2 linked regions of the Homo sapiens genome follow. The protein of the gene in region 1 interacts with the protein of each later gene in a biochemical or structural test. Each region holds a gene or a part of one and is shown on either strand. Other genes may lie near its edges. The genes, in order: TSHR and FLNB.

What was found.
Region 2: the proteins of TSHR (region 1) and FLNB interact in a test that uses a peptide from one of them, tested with the Homo sapiens proteins (one study listed by BioGRID).

What each region holds. Positions count from the first base shown.
Region 1 is NC_000014.9:80,950,817-80,959,875, reverse strand, and holds the start of TSHR (thyrotropin receptor isoform 1 precursor), read right to left. Parts: upstream 4,256-9,059; 5' UTR 4,196-4,255; coding exon 4,026-4,195; intron 1,699-4,025; exon of another isoform or gene 1,591-1,698; intron 445-1,590; exon of another isoform or gene 374-444; intron 1-373. UniProt on the Homo sapiens protein: Receptor for the thyroid-stimulating hormone (TSH) or thyrotropin. Also acts as a receptor for the heterodimeric glycoprotein hormone (GPHA2:GPHB5) or thyrostimulin. The activity of this receptor is mediated by G proteins which activate adenylate cyclase.
Region 2 is NC_000003.12:58,003,505-58,012,598, reverse strand, and holds the start of FLNB (filamin-B), read right to left. Parts: upstream 4,178-9,094; 5' UTR 4,035-4,177; coding exon 3,743-4,034; intron 1-3,742. UniProt on the Homo sapiens protein: Connects cell membrane constituents to the actin cytoskeleton. May promote orthogonal branching of actin filaments and links actin filaments to membrane glycoproteins. Anchors various transmembrane proteins to the actin cytoskeleton.

The sequences.
Region 1 (9,059 bases):
TACTGAGTAAATAACAGCACAGATGGAACACAGGGTACAAATGCCAAAGATGATGAATGATTGTCTTCAGTTTAGTAAACAGTAGGAGAGTCCATCAATTAGAGCCACAGATGCAGAATGCAAATGAGTAAAAACAGAACCTGAAAACAACAGCTCCTTCAGAAACATATCTGAAGGCACACAGGTGTCCAAACCACTTACTTCGTCGAAACCCAAGACCACAGATGGCAGTGGGGTTGGAGAAGGCAGATGTAGCAGTTACTGTCATAATGAAACTGAAAGCAGGGTTAAAACAACACAGTAAGGCGTGCCAGCACTTTCTGGAGGAAGAATCCACACAAATACATAGAGTGGTGCAGAATGGTTGTCAAATCCTTTCTACCTCCTTATTCAGAGAAGGAAGGATCTTCTCATGCACAGAGGCAACAAATGGCAACTTTCTGAGTAAGAGAGGGTGATGGGTCAATCTTGTTATCCTTGGTTTTGAGATATATGATCTATAATTATATGCCAACATTTAAATTTTTAATTTTATTCTCTTGCTTCATTTAAGTTTCCTTAAATCAGTAATTTTCAATGGAAGAGAGTGATTTTTTTCAAACTACCTACACATCAAAGATTCTAGAATGTTCCACTGGCAGTGGGGGAAGTAGGGATCCCAGCTCTCCCTCACCTTCCACTCAGGTAAAGCATCATACCCTTCTGGAGGGGAGGAGTGAGGAAAAGATACAGCATCACTTCTTCAGTGAGGGCCACAGTCCGTAACTCTCTCCCCTGCATCCATAAGACCACGGGGCTGGGATATGGGTAGTAGGGCAAGAGAGCTGTTTACCTTTCAGAACAATAATCTATGAGTAGAAGATAAAGTTTAGAAAGAGTTGTTCTCGGCACCATCATAATTTGTAAAATGTCTAAGAAGTGGTTATACAGCATCTTAATGAAGGTTGCAGAAGTAATGCAAATAACTCTACAGGAACAAAATACCTTACATTTTAAACCAGTGTAAGCTCTTCAAAAACTTTAAAAAGAGGTACACTCTGAATAATACAAAACTTGTGAGAGAACATGCCTCAGTAGTAGATCCTGTATAATTTAAGTAGATTCCAAAAAGAGGTCACCACCCAGAACGGCTTTTTAATGACAAAAACTTGGTTTATTTCAGCAAGGAATACCTTCCATAACTTAGATCTTTCTTGTCTAGAAAGATGTAAAAAAAGATCTAGATTTTCTTGTCAAGAAAGACTAACTTAGTCTTTCTTGTCCTCCTTGCCTCTCTTCCACTCTCTCTTTCTTCCTTCCTTCTTCTTTCCTTTCCCTGCTAACCTCCTGCTTTCTGAGTTCTTGCATCTGATGAATAGCCCCCGAGGTTATCAGTCGGTTTACTGAATGTGACTTGTTTTCAGACTTTTTTCTCCAAAGCCTATGACCATCAGGGGAACACTGGTGTGGTGAGACACACTTCTCATCTGAGAGTGGTGGCTTAAGGGTGCAGGCTCCATAGTTGATGATATGATATTCAAATCCTGACTTTACCACTTACAAGCTGTGCAACATTGAGCAAATTACTTCATTTTATTTTTGTGCCTCAAGGTCCTCATCTATAAAATGAGCATAATAACATCACCTACTTAATTGGATTTGGTGAGGATTCACTGGGTGAGTTCATGCAAAGCGCTGAGAACAGGACCCCCCGCCCCCGTAAGTAAACACAATATAATTGTTAGCTTTACATGTTTTACTTCTCTCATATGCTTTTCTTCAACAAAGAGTTCTACCGCCCCCAAAAGATTTAAAAATCATTTTTCTACTGTTGCAGATGGTAGTAGCCATTGTTCAAAGGAGACTACCATTTTGTTTTACCCACACTTTTTATCAGGTTTCTCTTTTCGATCTCAGAATAACTTTATTCTTCAGGACATACTACCTCCCTCTCCATTATTCTCAAGGGCAGATCCTCCTTGCCACTGTCTTTATGTCTTTTTCTTGTGATTCAGTGCCTTCCCTCAGACTATTCTCATCAGCATCATGTCATCACCTAGAAAGCACCTAGTTGAACATTCTCTTTTACCCAGAAGGAAATTTGGCTCCTTCCAAATCAGTCATCTTACACAATTTCATGGTTAGTAAAGAAGGGCTAAAGAGAATGCTGGTTTCCTGACTCCTGTTCCATTGCTCATTCTCCATTACCCTTTCTTTCTCAACTTTTGGTGGAATTTTAAACAGGATGTCTACGAGTTCCTTTTCACTGTCAGAGCCACATCTCTCTTCAATGACTTGAATTTCTGCCACTGTTAAAGAAGTCTCTGAAGAAGTGATGTCTTTGGATTTCTTTCTCCCCAACATAGAGTGGACATTCAGAGACCTGGCATATTCATTTGTTTATTTATTCACTTAAGTTTTTTTTTTTTTGTTTTTTCTGAGTGTCTAAGTAGTTCCAGGGTTTCAGGAATTCGGGGTTGAATGGCAGTTCCCTATGTTAGAGAAGCTTGTGTCCTGCTTGAGTGGGCATGCAAATAAATAACAAGTTACAAGAAAGTAGACAATGTCTAAGGGCTAGGGTTAGGTTCATGCAGAGAACGCTGTTGGGAAGGGGGGTATAGCTTACCCAGCCTGAAGGTCATGGGTCAGGAGAAGCTTCCTGCAGGGTTGATCCAGGATCTGGATCTGGGAGTAGGCATTAGCTGGGTGAAGAAATGGGTGAAATGTGCTTCAGGCAGAGGGGCCAGAAAGTGGGAAGAAAGGCAAGGGCAGCTGTAACAGCAGGGACCTTTGGGGAAGTGCCAGAAGTTCTCAGCAGGAGGGGGAAGTTAGAGAAATGAGGAGCAATGAGGTTGGAAAGACTTGACTAGGTCTTGAAAGATCTGGTAGGCTGCACAAAAGAATTTTATTCTAGAGGTGACAAGCAACCTATGTAGAGGTGTAATCAAGAGGCCATTACACCTTTTACACATCTTATTCTGTGGTGGCAGCATGGAGAATGACTACCACACTGTTTGGAGGTTATTGAACTAATTAATTCAGGTGTGCTAAGACACTAGGATATCTCTGAGCACAGAAATATATCTCTGTGCTCAAATATTCATCTACTGTTAAATAGTCTTCATGAGCTAAATTCTTGAGAAAATCTAGAGGTGCAACTTTCCCATTTCTTTTCATCTATCAACATTTTCTTTAATAACCTGCATTTTTTTTTATCTTAACTGGATTTAACCAGCCTAGGTTGTTTTACTGTCCTTTCTTTCTGTTCTCTTTTTAACTAATCAAGACAGACTTTATTCCCTTGGTTTTGTCTACAATTTCAATGATCACTGATTTAAATTGCTGTTAAGAAACAGGTTGTGTGTGTATAATCTTATTTAACATCAGGTTTCTAATCTGGTAACATTTAACATGCAGATAAATGTACTATACTTTTATGAAATTTCATTTCTTTATACCTCTATCACAAAGCAGGGTTCTGGACGTACTATTTCACTGGCAGTTCACATTTGAGTAAGTAACTTACAGATACTGTATAGACAGTTCATTTTAAAAAGGGCCCCTGCTTAAACCTTTGTCAACAATTTGATGAATCAGCAGAACTGCTAAGATAACCTCCCATCTAGAGAAACAAAAAGGAGAAATACATATTTTTGCAATTTTTTATTACCCAAGGTAAGATCAAAAAGGTCAGTTCCTGAGATGCCATTATCCTTATTAATTCAAATAAAACAGATTCAACCAGGGTTAGGCAAAGTGCTGAATAGCAGCTTGTTGGAAAGAACAGCTCTCACGGTCATTGTACACCAAAGTTTTGTAACATTTTCCTGTGTTGGGAATGAGGATGTCAACAATGATACCTTCCCAAGTGTGGGCGATTAAGTTTTTAGCACACACACACATCTACACACACAGACATTCACTCACACATACACACACTCACACACTACTTCGGGCTGTTATTGAGCTGCTTTTGTGCACTTCGGGCCACCTCTGCAGATGCCCTTGATCTCTGGGTCCTACCCTGATCTCTCCCGGGTACTCACAGAGTCTGCGTACTGGGCGGTAAGCTGGGGATGCGTTGAATATCCTTGCAGGTGACTCTGAAGTCCTCCTCCTGATGGCACTCGCAGGGTGGAGACGAACACCCCATTCCGCCCAGGTCCCTGGGCAGGTCGAGCAGCAGCACCAGCTGCAGCAAGTCCGCCGGCCTCATTTTCCACGGGACTCGGGGCTATTTCTCCATCCTCCGAAATCGCCTCATTCTCAGCTCTGCACCTCGGGTTACCCCAGGCCAAAGGAGACCCGGGAGCGGGAGGGGTGGGAAGAGGGAGGGCTCCAAGGGGCTGTGACCTCACCACTGTGGAGGAGGCTGGAGAAGGGGAAAAAGAGGCACTTAAGTGCTCCGCTTCCCTAGGCAACCTTGACCCAAACAAGTCTGCTTGCTTCACTTTCCTTGGCTGGACCCACGCAGTCCGCTCCGTCTGTTCCCTGACACCCAACACCAGTCCTGGCTGTCCCCTCTGTTTTCCAGCCCGCCCCCCCACCCCGGGCGCCCCTCCCATTAGTTCTCTCCAAAGCCTAGTTTAGATGCCCCCTCCTTTCCTCCTCTTTAAATCCAAGGAGCCACCTTCCCTAGCGTGTAGCCTTCTAGACACCCTGTCTGCCTGGGAGCCACTCGCACGCACTCCTTATCCAGAGAAAGTCCCCGCGGAGTGGACTGTCCGCGGGCGGACCAATGTCCTGCAGAACTTCAGCTCCTCCTGGCCAGAGACACCTCTGCTGAGGGTCAGAGGCGGGCACGCAGCCCTGGCTAGCCCGCGGTGCGGCCGAAGCCGTCGCCCTGCACCCCTGGAGGATTCTCGTTGCTATCCAACTGCAGGGGCCACTCCGGTGGTTGAGTCGACTGGCAGCGGCCGCCTCACGTTGCAGCCCGCGGCTCCGCGAGGCAATTCAGGAACTGAACTTTGGGGCCATCTGCTGGGAAGAATCGGGAATGGCAGAAATAATTCCAGGTTCCCTTAATAATGGGTCCAGTATGGAAATTCTGGTCGACCCAAGAATTTCATTGAGTCATATTCCCCCTGGAAGATGGGAAGAAAAATAATACTTAAGTGGCATACTCACCATTCTTCGCACAGTAGCCAAAAAGATCATTACAAACATAAATCAGATTGTGCCTATTTCCTTCTTAAAAGTCTTCAATCACTTATTCCTCTTGGGATAAAAGGAATGTCAATTCCTTCTATACTGCATAATTCCTTTTATATGAACTTGGCTAGGACAGGAAGGAAAAAGTTGTGGTTATGGGAATCAGAATAAAGGTTAGGAAAGATTGACTAGAAAAAGACAGGAGGGAACACACAGGGTTTCCATATCGTAATTAGGCTGGAGGTTAAGTGGATGTATACATTTATCAAAATTCATTAAACCGTACATTTAAAATATGTGTATTCCAAATTTTACAGAAGCTTTATTCATAACCACTAAACGAACCAAGTGTCTCGCGACTAGATAATGGATAAACAAACTCTGATACCTCCACATTGGAATACTATTCTGCAATAAAAATGAATGAACTGCTGATACAACATGCACAAATTTTCTTTTCTTTTTTTTTTTCTTTTGAAACGGAGTCTTGCTCCGTCGCCCAGGCTGGAGTGCAATGGCGCGATCTCGGCTCACTGCAACCTTTGCCTCCGAGGTTCAAGCAATTCTGCTGCCTCAGCCTCCCGAGTAGCTGGGACTACAGGCGCCCGCCACCACGCCCGGCTAATTTTTTCGTAATTTTAGTAGAGACGGGGTTTCACTGTGTTAGTCAGGCTGGTCTCGATCTCCTGACCTCGTGATCCGCCCGCCTCGGCCTCCCAAAGTGCTGGGATTACAGGCTTGAGCCACCGCACCCGGGCTTTTGTTGTTGTTTTTTTAAAAATTACCATGGTATTGTTATGGAACAAATCTTGAATGCATAATGTTAAGTGAAAAAAGCCAAACTCAAAATATTACGTATTTATATGTAATTATTCATATTAATGATTCATTTATATAGCTTTCTCAAAAAGGCAAAACCATAGGGACAGGAAAAAGATCAGCGGTTGCAAAGGCCTAGGGTAGGGCTGACTACAAATGAACACCAGAGAATTTTGTGGGTAATAAAACTGTTTTAAATCTTGTTCGTGGTGATGGTTCCATGGTAGTTTATTAATGTGGTGAATCATAGTGATCGATTTTCGAATGTTAAACCCACCTTGAATTGCAGGGATAAATCTCACTTGATCATGATGTATTTATCCTTTTTTTGTTTGTTTGTTTGAGACGGAGTCTCGCCCTGTCGCCCAGGCTGGAGTGCAATGGCACGATCTTGGCTCACTGCAACCTCCGCCTCCCGGGCTCAAGGGATTCTCCTGCCTCAGCCTCCAGAGTAGCTGGGATTACAGGCGCCCGCCACCACGCCCGGTTAATTTTTTGTGTCTTTAGTGGAGACGGGGTTTCACCATGTTGGCCAGGCTGGTCTGGAACTCCTGATCTCGTGATCCGCCCGCCCCAGCCTCCCAAAGTGCTGGGATTACAGGCATGCACCACCGTGCCCGGCCGTGTTTATCATCTTTTTAATATACTCCTTCATTGGATTTGCTAAAATTCTGTTTAAAAGTTTTACATAGACGTTCACAAGGGATAGTAGTCTGTTATTTTCTTTTCTGTAACTTCTTTGTCAAATTTTGGTATGAGGGCAATTAATTCTTCCATCACAGAATAAGTTGGGAAATATTCCTTCCTCTTTAAATTTCTATAGGAGTTTGTGTAGAACTGATATCATTCCTTTCTTACTTATTTGGTAGAATTCTCCAGTGAAGCTGTTGGAACCTTGCATTTTCCTTATTGGAAGGTTTTTAACTATAAATCCAGTTTCTAAACATAGATTTAGGGCTATTCAAGTCATATAATTCTTCTTGAGGTAGCCTGGGCAGTTTGTGTCATATAATGAATTGTCTATTTCATCTAAATTGTTGAATTTATTGGCATGAGTTTGTTCATAATATTCTCTTATCCTCTTATATTTATATAATCTATTCTGATGTCAACTCTGTCATACCTGATATTGATAATTTGTATCTTCTTTTTTTCACCTAAGTACTTTATCCAGAGGGTTATCAATTTTATTCATATTCTCAAAGAAGCAAATTTTTGTTTCTTAGATTCTCTATTTTTTTTTGTGCTCTATTTCATTGATATATGCTCTGATCTTTATTATTTTATTACTCTGCCTACTTGGGGTTTAATTGGCTCTTCTTTACTTCTTAAGGTGAGGTTTCTTAAGACTGAGGTCACTGATTTGAGGCCATTTTTCTTTTATAATATTGTATGTGTGTAGTGCTGTAGACTTTCCCTATACTACTTTAGAGACATCCCACAGGTTTCGATATCTTGTAATTTCATTTGTATTCAGTTTAAAATACTTTTTAGTTTTTCTTTTAGATTTCTTCCTTGATTCTTTAGAAGCATGTGGTTTAGTTTCCAAATATTTGAGGAATTCTCAGATATTCTGTTGTTAATTTGTAAATTAATTCTATTATAGACAGGGAAAATAGTTTGTATAACTTGAACACTTTTAAATTTAGTGAGACTCATTTTATGATTCAGAATATGGTCAATCTTGGTAAAATGTTCAGTGTGTACTTGAAAAAAAATAAGTGATCAGCTTTTGTGGAGTTGTGTGTTCTACAAATGTGATTAGGTCAAGTTGTTGATAGTATTGTTTAAGTCTTTTGTATTTTTGCTAACTTTAAAGTCTACTTGTCATATCAATTGTTGAGACATGGGTACTGAAATTTTTTACTACAATTGGGGATTTGTTTTTTTTCCCCCTCATTGCATTTCTATCAGGTTTTTCTTCATGCAATTTAAAGTTCATGTATTTTGAAGTTCTATTATTAGGTAAATACGTGTTTGGGACTATTATTTTCTTGTTCTCTTCATTGTTATTAAATGGCCTTCTTTATACCTTGTGATATCCTTTGCTCTTCAATCTACTTTTCTGTTATTGGTAGAGCCAATCCATCTTTCTTTTGATCAGCGTTATCATGGTATGATTTTTTCATACTTTAACCTCTTTGAGTTTTTATATTAAATGTGCAGTTCTTATAAATAGCATAGAGTTGGGTCTTGCTTTCAGTCTCGCCGTCTCTGCCTTTTGTTTGGTTTGTATAGATCATTTACATTTAATGTCATTATTCACATTACATTTAAGTGAATAATCTTGCTATTAGTTTTCTATTTCTCCATTGTTATTTGATCCAATTCTCCTTTTATTTTAAACATATGTTTGGAGTCATTAAGGAATTTTTATGATTCCGTTTTATCTTCTTTGCTGAATCTTAGCTATAACTCTGGTTATTATACTCATTGCTTTAAGGTTTATAGCATGTACGTTTAAGTTATCATAGTCCACATTCAGTTGATATTATACCAATTTATACTTGGTTTAAAAGAACCCTTCAACACTGTACTTGTTGAATGCTTGTTTATACTCCATTTCTCCTCTCCTGCCTAACCTTTATGCTTCCATCGCCATACATTTTACTCATACATAGGTTATAAATCCCATAATACAGTGTTATTATCTTTTAAAGGGATTCAAATAATAAGACAGTTACCCCTTCTGGTCTTTCTCATTCCTTAGTATTGATCCATATTTTTCACTGCTGTCACTTTCCTTTTGCTTGAATGACATTCATTAATTTTTTTGTCATACATATCTGCTGGTTATAAATTATTCCAGCTTTTCTGTGTCTGAAAAAGTATTACTTTTGTCTTCTTTTTAAAAAAGGATATCATCACTAGGTATAGAATCATAGATTGACATTATTTTTAACTTTCAGTACTTTAAAAACATTGCTTCATTTTCTTGTTGCTTGCATTGTTTACAAGGACAAATCTTATGTCAAAGTTTTCTTTGCTCCTTTATAATCTGCTTTTTTTTTTTTTTTTTTCTTACTCGGGATGCTTTTCAGATTTTGTCACTTGTTGAGAGCAATTTCACTGTAATGTGCCTTGATGTACTTTTCTTCAAGTTTCCTGTG
Region 2 (9,094 bases), on another chromosome or scaffold:
TTTGTCCAAGGTCAGAGGTTCAGAGTGTGGGTATCCAGCCACCACCCTAACACCTAAGACTTGCAAACCTAGTGTTGCAGGGACCCTCTGATGTGGAGAGAAAAGCTGTATTTTACTCATCTCTGAAACTGGAAGGCAAGTCAGTTAAGGCTCCAATTCAACAGCTGGGCAGACCTGGGTTTCAGACACCATTTACTAGCTAGCTGGGTCACCTCCACAAGTGGCTTCACTCCTGTTTCCCATCTTTAAATAAAGATAATAATACTAACCATGGCAAGAGTATGATCAACCAAACAGAAACAAACAACCAGGCTGTTCTCCCCTAATTTTGAACGTCCCTTCGGTGTGCAAACCATTCGGGCATGACTTTTTTTTTTTTTTTTTTTTTTGAGTCAGAGTCTCGCTCTCCCAGGCTGGAGTGCAGTTACACAAAGACCTCGGCTCACTGCAACCTCCACCTCCCGGGTTCAAGCAATTCTCCTGCCTCAGCCTCCCGAGTAGCTGGGACTACAGGTGTGCACCACCATGCCCAGCTAATTTTTGTATTTTTAGTAGAGCTAGGGTTTCACCATGTTGTCCAGGCTGGTCTCGAACTCCTGACCTCAGGTGATCCACCCACCTTGGCCTCCTAAAGTGCTGGGATTACAGGCGTGAGCCACGGCATCCAGCCCTGGCATTACTTTTGAGATAATTATTAGACAGCACCTTATTTAATTAACAGGCGCCATTTTCTAAGCAACACATGCCCAGGACAGTGTTAAGCCCTGAACTCTCTAAGTGACTTGCAGAAGCAGATCATTAGAGATAGGGCAGTAGTTGCTGTCAATCAATGATTAGCATGAAAATTCAATGGGGTGATCAACAGAACACACTTAACACCCAGTAGGTGCCCCCAAATTGAAGCTAGTGTCATTGTCAGCACAATGTAACACAACCTAAGCAGTGAATATATGAACCTTAGTCCAAGCTGGAGGTAACTTTGCCTTGAAGGATGAAGGACCATTACCCACAACAGCCTCAAGAGCTTAGGGAAGAAGCCTCCTGCTTTATCCCCACAGCAGTCCTGGCACTTGCCAGGGCTCTCTGTGGTCTCCAGAGGCTGGAAAACCTGTTTGTTGCAAGATCTCTCGGGAGAGCAATTAGGCAGCCAATGATACAAGTCATAAATGTGGTCACACCCTTTAACCCAGGAATGTCACTCTGGGGAATATGATCCAAGAAATCATTAAAAAGGAAAAAAATAGAATGCAAGTTGTGGTAGGAACAGGAAGAAGCTGCCAACAGCCCACAGGCCCAGCACAGAGGAAGGGAAGCTAACTAACCCTGGAACGTCGGGACAATGGGAGTAGCTAGGGCCTGAGTGGATTCGAAAATAAAAGGAGGACCGGGCTGGGCGCGGTGGCTCAGGGCTGTAACCCCCGCACTTGGGAGGCCGAGGCGGGCATATCATGAGGTCAAGAGTTCGAGACCAGCCTGGCCAACATGGTGAAACCCCATCTCTACTAAGAATACAAAAATTAGCCGGGCGTGGTGGCATGTGCCTGTAATTCTAGCTACTCAGGAGGCTGAGGCAGAAGAATCGCTTGAACCCGGGAGGTGGAGGTTGCAGTGAGCAGAGATGGCACCATTGTACTCCAGCCTGGAGACAGAGCAAGGCTCCATCTCCAGGCGGGGCGGTGGTGGGGAGGGGGAGCAGGGAATCAGGAGAACCATGTAAAAAAATGTAGACAAAATCTAGAATGAGACCCACAGCCCCGGGCACTGATGAGAGACAGTGCTGGAAGTAGCTGCTGCCTCTGTAAACAGTGGGTAGATCAGGCAGTCTGTGATTTGCTAGTGCTGCGGTTTGGTTTGGTTTTGTTGTTGTTTTAGAGATTTCATGTCGTATTTGGATACTTCTGGTTTACTTTAAGTTTCTTTATTCAGTTAATTAAATAAATACACATTTTTAAAACAAAGAACAGATCCAAATTGAGCCCAGCTGGGCCTTGGGATTCTTCAGAGGGGAGGCTGGTTTCTGAATGGTAAAGAATTCCAGGAGATTCTGAGGTTCTCCCTCCCCAGTACAGGAGATGGACCCCAGAAAGAAGACAACAGCGTGCCATGCAGATTCTTCTGCAGGGAAGCCACCCTTGGGGAGGGGGAGGGCTGCTGGAGATCAGCTGGGTGGTGCGGCTGCCATCTGGGCCCAGGAAGCAGGAAGCAGCCTTACCTGCCAGGACAGGTGTGGGGGAAGGGAAGGGTGAGGCCCTAAGGCCCAGGGGAGGCTCAGCCTAGAGGGAATCCCTTTTCCACTGGAGAAAGTCCTGGCAGCCACACCCATCTCCCTTTCTTCCTGTCACTAGGGTCACTATAGTGACCTGGTTTCCTCAGGAAGAGACCCAAATCACAGGCCAGGGCCAGTCCCTGGTTCTCCTTAGGAAGAGATCCAGACCCAGAACCCTCCTCTGCCCCAACCCACACCCACCCACCCACATACACACACACACATACACACACCCATACACACGTGTAGGTGGATACACATTCTCTGCATACATTCCGTGTACATGCAAACTCTTTGCATATGCACATGCTATACACACATGCTATGTGTGTACACACGTTCTCTGCACAAACGCCCACATGCACACACACATCACAGCCCCTACCATCACAGCCCACACTATCAGTAGCCTTGTGGCCCTCTGGGAAGCCTCCAACTATCTCAGACCACAAGGGAGACTTCATCCTTATTCTTCCTCCCCAGACCAGAAGGCCCAGTCCAGCAAGAGACACCAATTCCCTCCCTCCTTTCAGGAAGACCCTGGTGTAGGTTTGGGAGAGGAGAGGAAAACAAAGCCTCCTTCTAACTGTTGCCCACTTCCTTCAGTTCTCAGCTGGGCCCTACTTGCTGACCTTGGACAGGTCAATTAACCCTCCGGACCCCCTTATCTGTAAAATGGGTCTAGCCTCACCCCAGATGGCAGGATGCGTAGGGACGGAGATAACTTAGAAGGCTGACGGTACACAGTGGACGCTAGTTGGGCTCCCTACAAGACAGCAATTACTGTTACCACCACCATCTCTAAATTATAACTTCGGCAGCAAGGAGTGGGTTCAACCTGCGGCGCGCGGCCAGAGCTGAGCTGGGAGCAGAGAGAGCGAGGACACACACCCGCGCCTACCCTTGCAACCTCGGGGCCCACACCCATTCCAGCGACGGCAGGGGAAGGTACCAGGTCTCTGTCTCCACCTGGGCAGGGAGGCCCCAGGCGCAGAGAACGGTTCCTCCTCAGGTCTCACGGCCCGGCCTCCGAGCCAACGCCCATTCAGCTGCCTCTGAGAGCACCAACCTGGGCGCAGCAGGGAGAGCACTCCGCGGAGCATCTGACCCTAGGGCCCGCCCCCGGGGACAGCGAACGAGGGTTTCTAGTCCCCTAGCTCCCATAGGGGCGCCCCAGGTGTAGAGAAATGCAACAACTCCACCTCTCCTCCTGTGACCCCAGCCCAAACCCTCAACCCTTAGCCAGCCAAAGGTGCACTGCTGGGGCGGATGGCGGGGAGCGATCACAACAGGTCCCATCCCAGGGGAAGACACCGGGGAGGGGGTCTAGGCCCCCTATAACCCACCCCTGGGGACGACTCCCCCTTATCTCCGAGGTGGGGGCGCGCTGCGGGAAATCCTCGCCCTCCGCAGGGGTGCACGCGCGGGGGCGGGTCGGCACCACAGTGGGCGCCTGGGCCCGGCCAGAGAACTCACCGATGGACACGAGCTTGATGCTCTCACGGTCCAGGAACTCGAGCGCCACGGACACATTCTCGAGCTGCATCTGGCGAAAGGTGGGCCGCTGATGGTACTTGCGGTACATGCGCTTCTGGCTGAGCACCTCGAGCAGCGCGATGAGCCGCAGCCCGTCGCTCAGGTCGGTCTGCAGGTTGCCGATGCGTTTGTTCACGCACTTGAGGTGCTCGTTGCACCAGCGTGTGAACGTGTTCTGCTGGATCTTCTTCCAAGGCGCGTCCTCAGCTAGATCCTTCTCGGTTACCGGCATCCTGGTGGCGGGGAGAGCGCAATGCGCAACGAGCTGCCGGGGACTGGTGTTTGGAGGCCCAAGGGCCGAAGGAGCGAGAACCGAAGCGGAGCGGGAGCGGGGTTCGAACTTGCTGCTACCGGAGCCACGGCCGGTGCTGCTCTGCGGCCGCCCGCCCCTGGCCGCGCGAGGCGCCTGGCCCCGCGCCTGCGCGCTGAGCCGCCCCGCCCCCAAGCCCCGCCCCGTCCCGACCCTCCCGCGGGAGTTCCTGGGCCACGCTCGCCTCCTGCCGCCTGCCGCAGGCACTGCGCCCCACTGCGTCCTGGGACCCGCGCTCGAAGCCCACCACCCCAGCAGGATGTAGGGCTGCCTGAATCACCCGGTCAGCCCCGGGGTGGGGGGACCCGCGGGGGCTGGGAGCCGGACAGAATGGGTCGGGCCTCAGTGGGACTTGCGGGAGGGGCGCGCGGGGCGGAGGTCTTCATCCACATATAGATTGAATAAAATTCAGTAAGGGCTTTTATTGAGCTCCGCCTGTGTACCAGCCATTCTTCTCAGAGCCTGCTAACCAGTAGTAAATCAGACAAACGTATTGCACAACCTCAAGGAGTTCACACAGCCTAATGGAAGAGAAAAGTGTAATTCCACCATAACCAACAGCCCAGTAGTGGTGGTAAAAATGAACAATAAGGCTTGTTGCATGTCTTAGTTTCCAGTTACTGCTGTAACAAGTTACCAAAACTTAGTGTCTTTGAAAACACACACCCACAAATGTATTATCCTTCAGTTCTGTAGGTTCGATGGCCCACACAGGTCTTGCTGAGCTAAAAACAAAGTGTTGGCAGGATGCATTCCCTTCTGGAGGCTGTAGGGAAGAATCTGTTTCCTTGTGTTTTCTAACTTCCAGAAGCTGCCTGCGCGCCTGACTCCTGCCCCTTTTCTCTGTGAAAGCCTGCAATGGGCTGGGCACAATGGCTCACACCTGTAATCCCAGCACTTTGGGAGGCCAAGGTGGGTGGATCACCTGAGGTCAGGAGTTCGAGACCAGCCTGGCCAACATGGTAAAACCCCATCTCTACTTAAAATACAAAAATTAGCCAGGTGTGGTGGCGCGTACCTGTAATCCCAGCTACTGGGAAGGCTGAGATAGGAGAATCGCTTGAACCTGGGAGGCAGAGGTTACAGTGAGCTGAGATGGTGCCATTGCACTCCAGCCTGGGCGACAGAGCAAAACTCCGTCTCAAAAAAAAAAAAAAAAAAAAAAAAAACAGAAAAGCAAGCCTGCAATGTCAGGTGGAGTCTCTCAGACCTCAGACAGTCCTCTCTCCATAGGCACATCTTCCTTTTTTTTTTTTTTCCTGCGATGGAGTCTTACTCCGTTGCCCAGGCTAGAGTCCAGTGGTGCAATCTCGGCTCACTGCAACCTCCTCCTCCTGGGTTCAAGCAATTCTCTTGCCTCAACCTCCTGAGTGGCTGGGATTACAGGCACCCGCCACCACGCTCCGCTAATTTTTGTATTTTTAATAGAGACGGGCTTTCACCATGTTGGCCAGGCTGGTCTTGAACTCCTGACCTCAAGCGATCCACCAGCCTCTGCCTCCCAAAGTGATGGGATTACAGGCATGAGCCACCTTGCCCAGCCTTTTTTTTGTCTCACTCCGTCTCCCAAACTGGAGTGCTATGACTCAATCTCGGCTCCCTGCAGCTTCAACCTCCCCACACCTGGCCCTTTTAAGGACTCTTAAGATGACATTGGGCCAGCTGGTTAGTCCAACATGATCTCCCTATTTTAAAATCAGCCGATTAAGAACCCTAATCCTGTTTGCAACCTTAATTCCCCTTTGCCATTTAAGGGAATGTTCACAGGTCCTGAGAGTTAGGATGTGAACGTCTTTGGGGGCTATTACTCTGCCTACCACAGCATACATTGAGCACTTACTCTGTACTCATCCAGGTTCTGTGCTAGGTTCTGAGATATGGCAGAGTCTCAGGCCAGCCCTCTGTTGATAAAAGCCTGAATAATTACAACAGCAAGCATTGAATGAACACCTGCTGTTCCTCTGTGCCAAGCACAGTGCAAAGCAATTTCTTTCAAGTCGGGTGCAGTGGCTCACACCTGTAATCCCAGCACCTTGGGAGGCCAAGGTGGGCAGATCACCTGAGGTCAGGAGTTCGAGACCAGCCTGACCAACATGAAAAAACCCTAGCTCTACTAAAAATACAAAAAATTAGCTGGGCGTGGTGGCGCATGCCTGTAATCCCAGCTACTTGGGAGGCTGAGGCAGGAGAATCGCTTGAACCCAGGAGGCAGAGGTTGTGGTGAGCCAAGATTGCACTCCAGCCTGGGCAATAACAGTGAAACTCTGTCTCAAAAAAAAAAAAAGAAGAAATAACCGAGTGGTTGAGCGGCTTGCCCAGGCCACACAGCACAGTTAGAACCATAATGCAAGTCTGTAAGAGAGGCACAGGGTGCCCTGATACCAGAGAAGGGGCTCCTAACCCGGTTTGGGAGAGGAGTTCAGAGCAGGCAAGCTTCTGAGGAAGAGAGGTTGACCAGGACAGAGGGCAAGGGCTTGCAACTTTGAGGGTTGCTCAAAAGAGGCCAGCCAGTTTATGGGTAGAACCATTCTGTAACAGGTTATTTGCATACAATCAATGCCAGAGTGCTTTGTTCAGACAGATGAACTGACTCACTGGAAATGGTCACAACAGCCTGGGGGAGAGAATATATTACCCGGCCCTGGCTCACAATAGGGACTCAGTAACTACACTCATGTGTTGCTTAACAACAGGAATGCTAGAGGATTTTGTCATGATAGGAACACCAGAGAGTGTGTTCACACAGACCTAGATGGTACAGGCGACCACACATCCAGGTTAGAGGGGATCACCTGTTGCCCCTGGGCTACAAACCTGTACAGCAAGTTACTATATTGATACTGTAGGCAATTGTTACAATAAGTATTTGTGAATCTAAACATTAAAAGGGTATAATAAAAATACGATATAAAAGATAAAATTGGGCGGGGCGTGGTGGCTCACACCTGTAATCCCAGCTCTTTGGGAGGCCAAGGCGGGTGGATCACTTGAGATCAGGAGTTCGAGACCAGCCTGACCAACATGGCAAAACTCGGTCTCTACTAAAAATACAAAAATTAGCCAGGCATGGTGGCAGGCGCCTGTAATCCCAGCTACTCGGGAGGCTTGGGTAGGAGAATTGCTTGAACCCAGGAGGCAGAGGTTACAGTGAGCCAAGATCGCACCACTGCGCTCCAGCCTGGAAGACAGAGAGAGACTCCATCTCAAAAATTAACTAACTAAATAAATAAATAAAAAGATAAAAATAGTCTACCTGTATGGGCACTTGCCATGAATGGAGCTTGCAGCACTGGAATTTGCTCTGGGTGAGTCAGTGAGTGAGTGGTACGTGACTGTGAAGGCCTAGGACATTACTGTGCACTACTGTAGACTTTATAAACACTGTACACTGAGGCTATACTAAGTTTATTTTTTTAATCTTTTTCTTCTGCAATAAGAAATTAACCTTAGAGGCCGGGCACGGTGGCTCACCCCTGTAATCCCAGCACTTTAGGAGGCTGAGGCGGGTGGATCACGAGGTCAAGAGATCAAGACCATCCTGGCCAACGTGGTGAAACCCTGTCTCTACTGAAAATACAAAAACTAGCTGGGTGGGGTGGCACGCACCTGTAGTCCCAGCTACTCGGAAGGCTGAGGCAGGAGAGTTGCTTGAATCCGGGAGGTGGAGGTTACAGTGAGCCGAGATCGCGCCACTGCACTCCAACCTGCCAATAGAGTGAGACTCCGTCTCAAAAAAAAAAAAAAAAGAAAAAAGAAAAATAAAAAAGAAATTAACCTTAGCTTACTGTAATTTTTTAATTTTATATATTTTTTAATTCTTTGACTTTTTGGCTTTTGTAATAACAGCTTAAAACACAAACACATTATAAGCTGTACAAAAATTCTTTCTTTCTTTAAATCCTTATTCTGTAAGCTTTTTTCTGTATTTAAAACTTTTTATTGGCCAGGCACGGTGGGTTACGCCTCTAATCCCAGCACTTTGGGAGGCTGAGGTAGGCGGATCACCTGAGGTCAGGAGTTCGAGACCAGCCTGGCCAACACGGTGGAACCCCATCTCTACAAAAATACAAAAAAAATTAGTGGGGCATGATGGCGAGTGCCTGTAATCTCAGCTACTTGGGAGGCTGAGGCGGGAGAATGGTTTGAACCCAGGAGGCAGAGGTTGCAGTGAGCTAAGATGGTGCCGTTGCACTCCAGCCTGGGTGACAGAGCAAGACTCTGTCTAAAAAAAAAAAAAAAATATATATATATATATATATATATATACACACACACACATACATACATATATAAAACATACAATTATGTACAGTATATAATATTTGATAATAAACAAGTATGTTGGCTGGGCACAGTGGCTCACGCTTGTAATCCCAGCACTTTGGGAGGTCGAGGTGCACAGATCACCTGAGGCCAGGAGTTCGAGATCAGCCTGGTCCAACACGGTGAAATCCCATCTCTACTAAAAATTTTTAAAATTTTATTATCGACCTCCCTGGGCTCAGGTTATCTTCCCACTTCAGCCTCCTGAGTAGCTGGGACTATAGGGGCGCACCACCATGCCCAGCTAATTTTTGTATTTTTTGTAGAGACAGGGTTTCGCCATGTTGCCCAGGCTGGTCTAAAATTCCTGGGCTCAAGCAATCCTCCTGCCTCAGCCTCCCAAAGTGCTGGGATTACAGGCGTGAGCCACCACACCCAGGCAATAAAAAGTGTTTGTTTGTTTGTTTGTTTGTTTGTTTTATTTTTTTGAGATGGAGTTTCACTCTTGTTGCCCAGGCTGGAGTGCAGTGGTGCGATCTCAGCTCACTGCAACTTGTGGAGGTGGCCCTCCACAAGTGTGAGCCACCGCCCCCGGCCTGTGCTATATTTTTACTGGACTGCAGCACAGAAGGTTATGATTACACCAGCATCACCACAAACACAACAGTAATGTGTTGTGCTGTCTGTTGTTGACAGAAATGTCATTATGTACACATGAC